Regions from separate parts of the Homo sapiens genome. Here region 1 is linked to region 2. The links come from fine-mapping of genetic effects on gene expression. Tissue or cell type: monocytes. Region 2 holds a variant in brackets; the other region holds the start of a gene. All regions are shown on one strand. Distances are between the middles of the regions.

Evidence for each region. PIP is the estimated chance that this variant, and not a neighbour inherited with it, causes the effect.
Region 1: JPT2 starts here. The variant in region 2 is fine-mapped to the expression of JPT2 in monocytes (CEDAR, PIP 0.91).

The regions. Positions count from the first base shown.
Region 1 is chr16:1,675,255-1,680,406 of GRCh38, reverse strand. It overlaps JPT2 (Jupiter microtubule associated homolog 2), which reads right to left and starts at 2,128. Exons shown (of 5, transcript NM_144570.3): 1 at 2,051-2,128. The coding sequence starts at 2,094. CRAMP1 (cramped chromatin regulator 1) reads right to left here. Exons shown (of 21, transcript NM_020825.4): 21 at 2,499-5,152. RefSeq lists silencers at 1,712-2,071, 2,102-2,501 and an enhancer at 1,636-2,271.
Region 2 is chr16:2,379,190-2,384,296 of GRCh38, reverse strand. It overlaps the pseudogene ABCA17P. Among named protein-coding and RNA genes, the nearest start is that of ABCA3, 41 kb to the right of the region's middle. The variant A/G (reference allele first, on the strand shown) is at 3,058.

The DNA.
Region 1 (5,152 bases), 700 kb after region 2:
CCCAGGGTAGTGTGAGTATGACTTTAGTGCGGCCCTGTGCAGCTAACTTCTGGAGCGTGAAAGTCAATATAAAAACATCGGCGTCGCTCAGGGTGATAATAAACACCATCATTTACCGGGCAGCCAGTGCCAGGCAGCACAAACAAAAAGGAAACGTACTAAATGCACACAACTGGGACAGGGCTGGGGATGCAGTCCCTCCCCCCACTGATGTGGGTGGTGCAAAACTCTGGCCACCAGGAACCAGAAACCGGATTCGCTCTGAGCACTAGTTTAAACTCCTGGTCCCACATCGGTGCAGACCTAGGCATAATAATCACTGTTCCATGGATGAAGGGCTGTTTCTTTGAGACGGAGTCTTGCTCTGTCATCCAGGCTGGAGTGCAGTGGTGTGATCTCGGCTCACTGCAAGCTCCGCCTCCCGGGTTCACACCATTCTCCTGCCTCAGCCTCTCAAGGAACTGGGACTACAGGCACCCGCCACCCCACACCCGGCTAATTTTTTCGTATTTTTAGTAGAGACGGGGTTTCACCGTGTTGGCCAGGATGGTCTCGATCTCCTGATCTCGTGGTCCACCTGCCTCGGCCTCCCCAAGTGCCGGGATTACAGCCGTTGAGTCACTGCACCCTGCCACGGGTAATTATTTGGTTACAAGTATTACTGAATACTGACCTAACTCCCTCAAATCTAAAGGGTTTTTTTTTTTTTTGAGACGGAGTCTTGCTCTGTCGTACAGGCTGGAGTGCAGTGGCATTATCTTGGCTCGCTGCCACCTCTGCCTCTGGGTTCAAGTGATTCTCCTGTCTCAGCCTCTCCAAGTAGCTGGGACTACAGGCACACACCACCACGCCTGGCTAATTTTTGCATTTTTAGTAGAGACGGGGGTTTCACCATGTTGGCCAGGCTGGTCTCGAACTCTTGACCTCACGTGACTCGCCCACCTCAGCCTCCCAAAGTGCCGTGATTACAGGTGTGAGCCACCACGCCCGGCCAATCTAAAGGGTTTTTATTTTTAGCAAGTTGGAGCAATTCTTTTACTTAGTATTTATTCAATATAGTATTTGTCTTCACTTGATCATAGCCAAAAGGCTGAGAAGCAATATAGTATTGGTCTTAACAGTCATGGCACACATATTCTCTTCTACTTCTCTGGCGAGGCTGTGCCACAGAGGGGCTCATCATACAGAAAACCTCAGGCATCTGAAGACCCAAACTTCACAATGCAAGTTTACTGCTCAAGTGGCACGAAAGACCTTGTAAGCTCTGTCCCTCTAATTCATGCGAGTCCCAATACCCAAAGAGTGCTTTAAAAGTTCAAAAACATAAGAAAAGTGTGCTCAGTGTTCCTGGCTATTAAAGCTGAGTCAGGATATCTTCGTCCCAATCCACTTCTTCCTACAGCGAAGCCCAGGAGCGCCATCCACCTTCCCAGGAGATAGAACTGACTCTTCCCCAGACGCCCTGGCACTTTCCAAAGGAAGTGGACTCACATGAACTAGTGGAAGCGCGGCCATGGGCAGGGCACAGGCCACACACACACCAGGGACACGGGCACACGGCCACACGCACAGGAGCGGGGGCATGGCCAGACACCCCCCACGAACACATCGCCGCACACCCCTTAGGGACACCCCCCCGGGAACATGGACACGCATCCCACAGACAAAATGGGCCGCACCCACGGGCACACCCCGCCCCCAGGAAACCCCCCACGGAACGCACCACACGGAACGCGGGCGCCCAGGCGCGAGGGAGCGCAGCCCGCCCTCCACACAGCTTTGTTCCCAGAGCCCGGGCGCCCCTCCCCGCCCTCGGCCTCGGTCGCGGGCAGCTCTCCACAGCCCGGGCCTCAGCGAGCGGCCCCTCGGGCTTCGGGCCTCGGTCTGGCGGCGGCGCAGAAAGGCGGGCGGCGGCCCCGAGGGCCTCTGTGAGGTCGCCCTGCCCCCCAACCCCACCCCAACCCCACACGGCTGGTGGACGCCCTGGGCTGGCCCGCTCCCGCCACGTGGTCGCGCTATCCGCCCGCCTCCCGTGTGCCCCGCGCCGCACCTGGAGCCGGCGCGGCCGCCCTCGCTATCCGGGACCTGGAACATGTCGACCGCCGCCACCCTCAGCTCGCCGCGCGCCGTTCCCGCCCGCCCAGCGCAGGTACTCAAGGCCGCCCGCCAGCGCCCATTGGGCGCCAAGACGCCAATCATCCCTCCGCAGCCTATCTCAGCGCGGCCACCGCCCCTCACGCCCACCCCCGACGACTTAGGCTTTGAACGGTCGGCGCCGCGCCCGCAGCCGATTGGGGAAGGCGACGCCGCTCGCGGAGGTGGGAGCTCGCATTGGGCGGCGGGCCGGGCGGGCCCTGGGACGGCCGCGCCCTCGGGAGGAAGCCCGGTCTGCGGGAGCCCGCGAGCCGACCGCGGGGCCGCACCTGGGCCGCACCTGCCCGACCAGGGACTGCGGGCATGGGCGCGCGGCCCTGAAGAACAGGCACAAACGACAGTCCTTAGATCAACATTAGTATGTATTTATGCACAATAAAAACATTTACAAGTTGAACTGGAAATTTAAACAGAAGTTTAACAGCTCTTATTATATTAAATAACCAAAACACCTTTTATTCCCAAAATTGGTAAAGAATAAATAATATAATTTACAATATGGTACAAAAAATAACCAGGAAAGGCAGGCATTCTGCTTTATACATACACTGTATATGCATATTTATAATCTATAAAACAAATTCATATCTGAAACGAGCGGAGGCCTCGCTATGGCTTAACCGAGTAAGAGAGAGAAGGGGAGCGGGGCGCGGGAGGCAGGGCCAGGGGCTGGGCTCCCCACACCTCACCCACCCCAAGGACACGCAGCCACTGTGACATCAGGAGAGCGCTGACAGCCGCGAAGGGTGTGCTGTGGGTTTTTTTCCTTCGTTGTAAATTACTCTTTCCTTGCTTTCTTTTTTTAACTTGAGACCCAGTTTCGCTCTTCTTGCCCAGGCTGGAGTGCACTGGCGCGATCTCGACTCACTGCAACCTCCGCCGCTGAGGTTCAAGTGATTCTCCTACCTCAAGTCTCCTCAGTAGCTGGGATTATGGGCATGCGCCACCACGCCCGGCTAATTCTGTACTTTTAGTAGAGACAGGGTCTCTCCATGTTAGTCAGGGTGGTCTCATACTCCCCACCTCAGGTGATCCGCCCGCCTCGGCCTCCCAAAGTGCTGGGATTACAGGCGTGAGCCACTGCGCCCGGCCTCCTTCCTTGTTTTCTTAAGACAAAGTGCTGTATTTCCTGACAAATGCATCGGCTAGAGCTCAAGGTTTAAAGAGAAAACACAACTGTCTTCCTCCTCCCTCATTCCCGGTGTCTTATGCCCCACAACTTTCTTTGCAGAAGAAATTTTGAATTCAATGCTGTGATCTAATTAAAGATGCTATTAAACTAAAAAGGTTATCCACCAGAAATGAGGCCACGGCCTCTCATGCCCAGAACCTGGAGGTGCGGCAAAGCAAGGAGGCCAACCGCGGAAACGCCGCCAACACCCCACTCCCTGAGCTGGCACCCTACAGCTACAAGACACAGAAGGACAAAACAGCCAGGAAGCCACGAACTAGGCATCCCCCGAGGCACGCAATGCCCGCTTATCACTGCACATCCACAACAGAATTGAGGCCAGAGGACTAACTTCCCTGGACCACAGATGCTCTGTCCCAATCTCCAGAAAAGACGAATCAACAGAAAGATCCCAGGCAACGTCAGAGGGATTCAGGAAAGCTTTTTCTAAGAAACTGATCTCATCTTAATTACAGCATGCTCAAATGCACAAAGGAAGCCACAGGCTCATACTTAGACGATCACCGCTTCTGTTGGAAAGGCAGAAGATGCAGGAAGTCTCTGTTTGGATCTTTTGAAAATTCCAGCCTTTAACAGTTGCCTATGTTTGCACATAAATATTCATTTAGGCCAGAAGAAAATGTATCCATTGTTTTTCTGCAACAAATGACACCATTTTCCCTTAATGTGGCAAGCAAATGCGTATCACCTGTCTAGTTACTAGAGAAGCAGAATCCTCTAGAACTCTTGTCAGCTTTATTACAGGAGAGGAGTCAGCCCGTCCTCCTCCCTAACCCATCTCCCCACTGGATGGCAATGGCTGCAGTTGGCTGCTCCCAGGAGTCTACGCTGGAGAACCAAGTGGTAGGTGCTGTCTAAAGAGCCTACGAAAGCAGACTCTGACCTCCAAAACTTCACCCCACTGAGTTGTCAGGGGCTAACAGGTACCCTGACAGGCAGTTCACAAACCCTCCTGTCCCTGGCACAGTGCACACAGCTCAGTGCTGTTGGGACTTGGCATCTCTGGTCTAGCCTGTGGGAGTATGAGAAAGCTAGCAGTGGCCTGAACTCGGCCTGGTATCCTAACCCTCTAGAGACGCAGCAAAGCCAGATGCCCAGAGGGAGATCTCCTTGTCTTCTCTGGCTCAATGAGATGCTAATTTTGGAAGCTGGTATACGTAGCACAAAACACAAGCTAGTGTAAAGATGCTGTAGTTCAAACACTGCTGTCTCTCTCCTAATCAAGTGGCATGTTTCTTTTTTCACCCCTAAGAGGTTTGGGACTGTTTGCTTAAGATCTCATGTCAATGTCTGAAGGAGGGAAGCCAGCTCAGGCAAGAGCTCTAAGAAAAACTCGTGAGACAAAAGAAGGAAGCTCTTGCCTGGAAGTTCACTGTCCTCTCCACGTCCTCCCAGTGGTGCAGTACACGGCCTGCCTGTGGTCTACAGTGGCTGTGGTGGGCTGGCAAGACTGCAGGACGGAGGGCGTCCACATGCTTGTCCACACCAAAGGCCTTTCCCTCCTCTTTTCACCTTCTCCATTGTGGATGGGGAGAGAAGCAGTGGAGGGGCCAGGGCTGGCCTTGAGGGCTGCAGCGTGCCACACATGTGGGGGAAGAGGAATGGTGGGGAGGAGGGAGAGTAGGTCCAAGGGGGTTAGGAAAGCACAATCAATCCCGGCTGCTGCGGGGGATGAAATGAGGCAGGAAGGGAGAGATGGCGGCACAGGCATGGCCTGCCCAACACCTCTGTAGCAGCTCCAGGCCACACTGGATGTGGATGGACGGTGACTCATGTGCCTGGAACTCCTGAGGATGAGAAGGCAAA
Region 2 (5,107 bases):
TGAAAGAAGTTAAAGAAGACCTAAATAAATGGAAATACCTTTTGTGTTCATAGATTGGAACACTTAATTTTGTTAATATGACATTACTATCCAAAGCAATCTAGAGGCTGGGTGCAGTGGCTCATACCTGTAATCCCAGCATTTTGGGAGGCCGAAGTGGGTGGATCACCTGAGGTCAGGAGGTCGAGATCAGCCTGGCCAACATGGTGAAACCCTGTCTCTACTAAAAATACAAAAAAATTAGCCAGGCATGGTGGCACACACCTGTAATCCCAGCTACTCGGGAGTCAGAGGCAGGAGAATCGCTTGAACCCAGGAGGCAGTGGTTGCAGTGAGCTGAGATTGAGCCTTTGCACTCCAGCCTAGGCAACAGAGCAAGACTCCATCTCAAAAAAATAAAAATAAACACAAAGCAATCTAGAGATTCAATGTAATCCCTACTAAAATTCCAATACCTTATTATTATTATTATTATTTTTTTTTTTTGCAAAAATAGGCAAGCTGATCCTAAAAATTCATATAGAAATGCAAGGGACTCAGAATAGCCAAAACAATCTTAAAAAGAAGAACAAAGTTGGAGGACTCATATTTCCTAATTTCAAAACTTCCTAGAAAGTTACAGTCATTGAGACATTGTGGTACTGGCATAACAACCGACATATGGAACAATGGAATAGAATTGGGAGTCTAGAAACAATCCCATATATCTATGGTAAATAGACTTTTTACAAGGATGCCATGACCATTCAATGGGGAAGGAATAGTCTTTTCAACAAATAGTGCTGAGACAACTTAATATCTATATGAAAAAGAATAAATGTAGACCCATACCTCACACCATATACAAAAATGTACTCATAATGGACCAAAGATCTAAATCTAAGAACCAAAGCTATGAAATCTTAAAAAGAAATATAAGTATAAATCCTAGACGATAATTTTTAAAATATAATAGCAAAAGCGTAAGTAACAAATAAAAAAAAGATAAATTAGATTTCATCAAAATTTAAAACTTTTGTTTTAAATTTAAAAATACTATCAATAAAGGGAAAAGACAATCCACAGAGTAGGAGAAAATATTTGCAAATCATATAACTAACAAGGGCCTAGGATCTAGAATATACACTTAAAAACTTTTTACAGGCTGGGTGCGGTGGCTCACGACTATAATCTCACTTAGCACTCTGAAAGACGAAGGCGAGAGGATCATTTGAACTCAGGAGTTTGAGACCAGCCTGGGCAACATGGTAAAACCCCATTTTTACAAAAAAATACGAAAATTAGCCAGGCAATTGGCCTGTACCTGTGGTCCCAGCTACTTGCGAGGCTGAGGCAGGATGATCACTTGAGCCTGGGAGGCAGAGATTGCAGTGAGGTGAGATCCTGTCACTGCACTCCAGCCTGGGCAACAAAGTGAGAGGTGAGAGGCTGTCTCAAAAAAAAAAAAAAAAAAAGCTGGGCACAGTGGCTCACATCTGTAATCCCAGCACTTTGGGAGGCTGAGGCTGGTGGATCGCCTGAGGTCAGGAGTTTGAAACCAGCCTGGCCAACATGGTGAAACCCTGTTTCTACTAAAAATACAAAAAAAAAAAAAAAAAAAAAAAATCAGTCAGGCGTGGTGGTGCACGTCTGTAATCCCAGCTGCTGAGGAGGCTAAGGCAGGAGAATCGCTTGAACCTGGGAGGCAGAGGATGCAGTGAGCCAAGATCGCACCATTGCACTCCAGCCTGGGTGACAGAGTGAGACTTCATCTCAAAAAAAAAAAAATGGAAAGAAAACAAAAACAAAAAAAACTCTTACAGCTCAACTACAAAAAGATAAAGAACCCAACCAAAAAAACAGGCAAAGGACTGGAATAGATATCTCTCCAAAGAAGTATACAAATAGCCAATAAGCACATGAAGAGATGCTCAACATTATTAGTCAACAGAGAAATGCAAATCAAAACCACAAGGTACTACTTCACACTAACGGCAATTTCTCAAAAAGTAAAACAAACAAACAAACAAAAAAGTTAAACATAGAGTTACCATCTGACCCATTAATTTCACTTATAGGTATTTACCCAAAATAACTGAAAATAGGTGTTCAAACAAAAACGTGAACACTAATGTTCATAGCAGCACTATTCACAATAGCCAAAGGGTGAAAGCAACCCGATGTCCATCAGCTGAGGAATGGGCAAACATTCAGGTGAGTAGAATGGATATTATGCAGCTATTAAAAGGAGTGAAGTACAAATATATACTAAAATATGGATAAACCTTGAAAACATTATGTTAAGTGAAATAAGCCAGACATAAAAAGCCACATATTGTATGACTCCATTTATATGAAATATCCAGGATAGGCAAACCCATAGAAACAGAAAGCAGATTAGTGGTTGCCAGGGACTAGGGGAAGGGAGCAATGGGAAGTCACTGATAATGTGTATAAGTTTATTTTGTGGGCAATGAAAATGTTCTGCAATAAGATAGTGGTGATGGTTACATGGCATTGTGAGTATACAGGCTGGGCACGGTGGCTCATACCTGTAATCCTAGCACTTTGGGAGGCTGAGGTGGGTGGATCACTTGAGGTCAGGAGTTTGAGACAAGCCTGGCCAACATGGCGAAACCCCATCTCTACTAACAATATAAAAATTAGGCCAGGCCCAGCACTTTGGGAAGCCGAGGCGGGTGGATCATGAGATCAGGAGATTGAGACCATCCTGGCCAACATGGTGAAACCCTGTGTCTACTAAAAATACAAAAATGCTGGGTGTGGTGGCATGCGCCTGTAGTCCCAGCTACTCAAGAGGCTGAGGCAGGAGAATCACTTGAACCCGGGAGGCAGAGGTTGCAGTGAGCCAAGATTGCGCCACTGCACTGCAGCCTGGGTGACAGAGTGCGACTCCGTCTCAAAAAAAAAAAGCACACACACACACAAATTAGCTAGGCATGGTTGCAGGTGCACGTAATCCCAGCTACTTGGGAGGCTGAGGCACGAGAATCGCTTGAACCCAGGAGGTGGAGGCTGCAGCGAGCTGAGATGGTGCTACTGCATTCCAGCCTGGGC[A/G]ACAGAGTGAGACTCTGAAAAAAACAACAACAACAAAACAACAAAACACTGTGAGTATACTAAAAACTACTGAATTGAATATTGTAAAATGAGTAAAATGATGAATTTCACGTTATGTGAATTTTGTCTCAATAAAAAGTAAAAAATATATAAAAATTCAAATACAGTCATTTGTAGAAATCCTTTAACTCAGAAATCTTGACTTAAACGCCATGCCCTTCACCCTTCCTGAATGTTTAAGGAATAGTGTCCAGAAGAGGTTTCAAGACTGACATAATAAAAAAATATATATTTGGTCTCTGCCCTGGTTCCTGGCACTGAGCTCCTAAAGCCCTTGTAATTTCCTGAGTGACAAAGCTGCTAGAAGCATCTTTTGTTCTAATATTTGGTCTTCGATTTGATATTTGATTTGGTTTCTTACACAGAATTCCCAACTCCCTTGGAATTTCCTGAGTGATAGGAGCATCTTTTTGTTCTAGGGAGGCAACTTTTGGTGGGCTCCTGGACTGCTTCAGGATGTGAGCTAGTCACCAGAAAGACCAAGCCATGGTTAGAAGCTTGGAAATTTCAGACCAGGCGTGGTGGCTCGTGCCTGTAATCCCAGCACTTTCAGAGGCTGAGGCCGGTGGATCTCTTGAGGTCAGGAGTTCGTGACCAGCCTGGCCAACATGGTGAAACCTCATCTCTACTAAAAATAAAATTTAAAAAATTAGCTGGGCCTGGTGGTGGGCACCTGTAATCCCAGCTACTCAGGAGGCTGAGTCAGGAGAATCGCTTGAACCTGGGAGGTGGAGGAGCCAAGATCACGCCATTGCACTTCAGCCTGGGCAACAGAGAAAGACTCCGTCTCAAAAAAAAAAAAAAGCTTGGACATTTCAGCCTCACCCCCAATCCTCCAGGGAGTGGGAGAGGGATTGGAGGCTGTGCTAATAACTGGTCATGACCACATGATGTAGCCTGCCTAAAAATATCTAAACTATGGGCTCTGAAGAGTTACCGGGTTGGTGAATACACTGAGGTGCTGCCAAGGTGGTATACTAGGACAGGGCATGGAAGTTCTGCACTGCTTTTCACACACCTTGTCCTGTGTACCTCTTTATCTGGTTGTTCATGTGTATCCTTCATAATACCCTCTATAATAAAGGGTTTTGTGAGCTTTTATAACAAATTATCAAACCTAAGGAGGAGGTTGTCGGAACCCCCAAACAACAGCCAGTTGGTCAGAAGTACAGGTAACAACCTGGAACTTGCAACTGACATCTGAAGTCAGGGATGGGGGCAATCTTGTGAGACTGAGCCTTAAACCTGTGGAGTCTGCATTAACTTTAGATAGTCAGCATTAAGAACTGAATTGTAGGACACTCAGTTGCTATCCGCAGAGTTGGAGAATTGGTTGGTGTGGGAAAACTCCACATACATTTGGTGTCAGAAGTGTTGAGAATAGAGAAACACAAGTTTTCATTTTAAAGACACTCCCAGGAGGTTGCAGTGAGCTGAGATCACGCCACTGCACTCCAGCCTGGTGACAGAGCAAGACTCCATCTCAAAAAAAAAAAAAAAAAAGACCTACCCTGAGTTGAATCAGAGAGCTGCAGTCTATCTCATCATTCCCAAGAGTGGATACAGAGGAAACAAATCCCTGTTATCCATCGACTCACCTGACCATAGAAAGAAAGATGTTCTGCTACTGTTAACTTATCAGATAAGACATCATGTTGGGGCACCAGCCCAGGCTCTTCCTAATGTGAAATATCTCTTGTGAAATTTCATATCCATTGACATATGCACATCCACTTGTAGGGGGAATAAGACCTAGAACCAAGGGGAAGACAAGATACTGAAGTTATCTTCAGTCAGAGCACACAGCAGCACGAAGGCCCGATGATACTTTCTGCTTTGTTCACTTGTTCTCACACACACTGTCCTTATACTACTTCTTTGCCACAGTCAGTGAAATCAGCAGCATCCAAGGAGTATGTATGTTCTATGCATGACAATGTACCAGGATGTGTGGGGAGTATTAGAGATAGGAGATATCCTCCCTACTTTT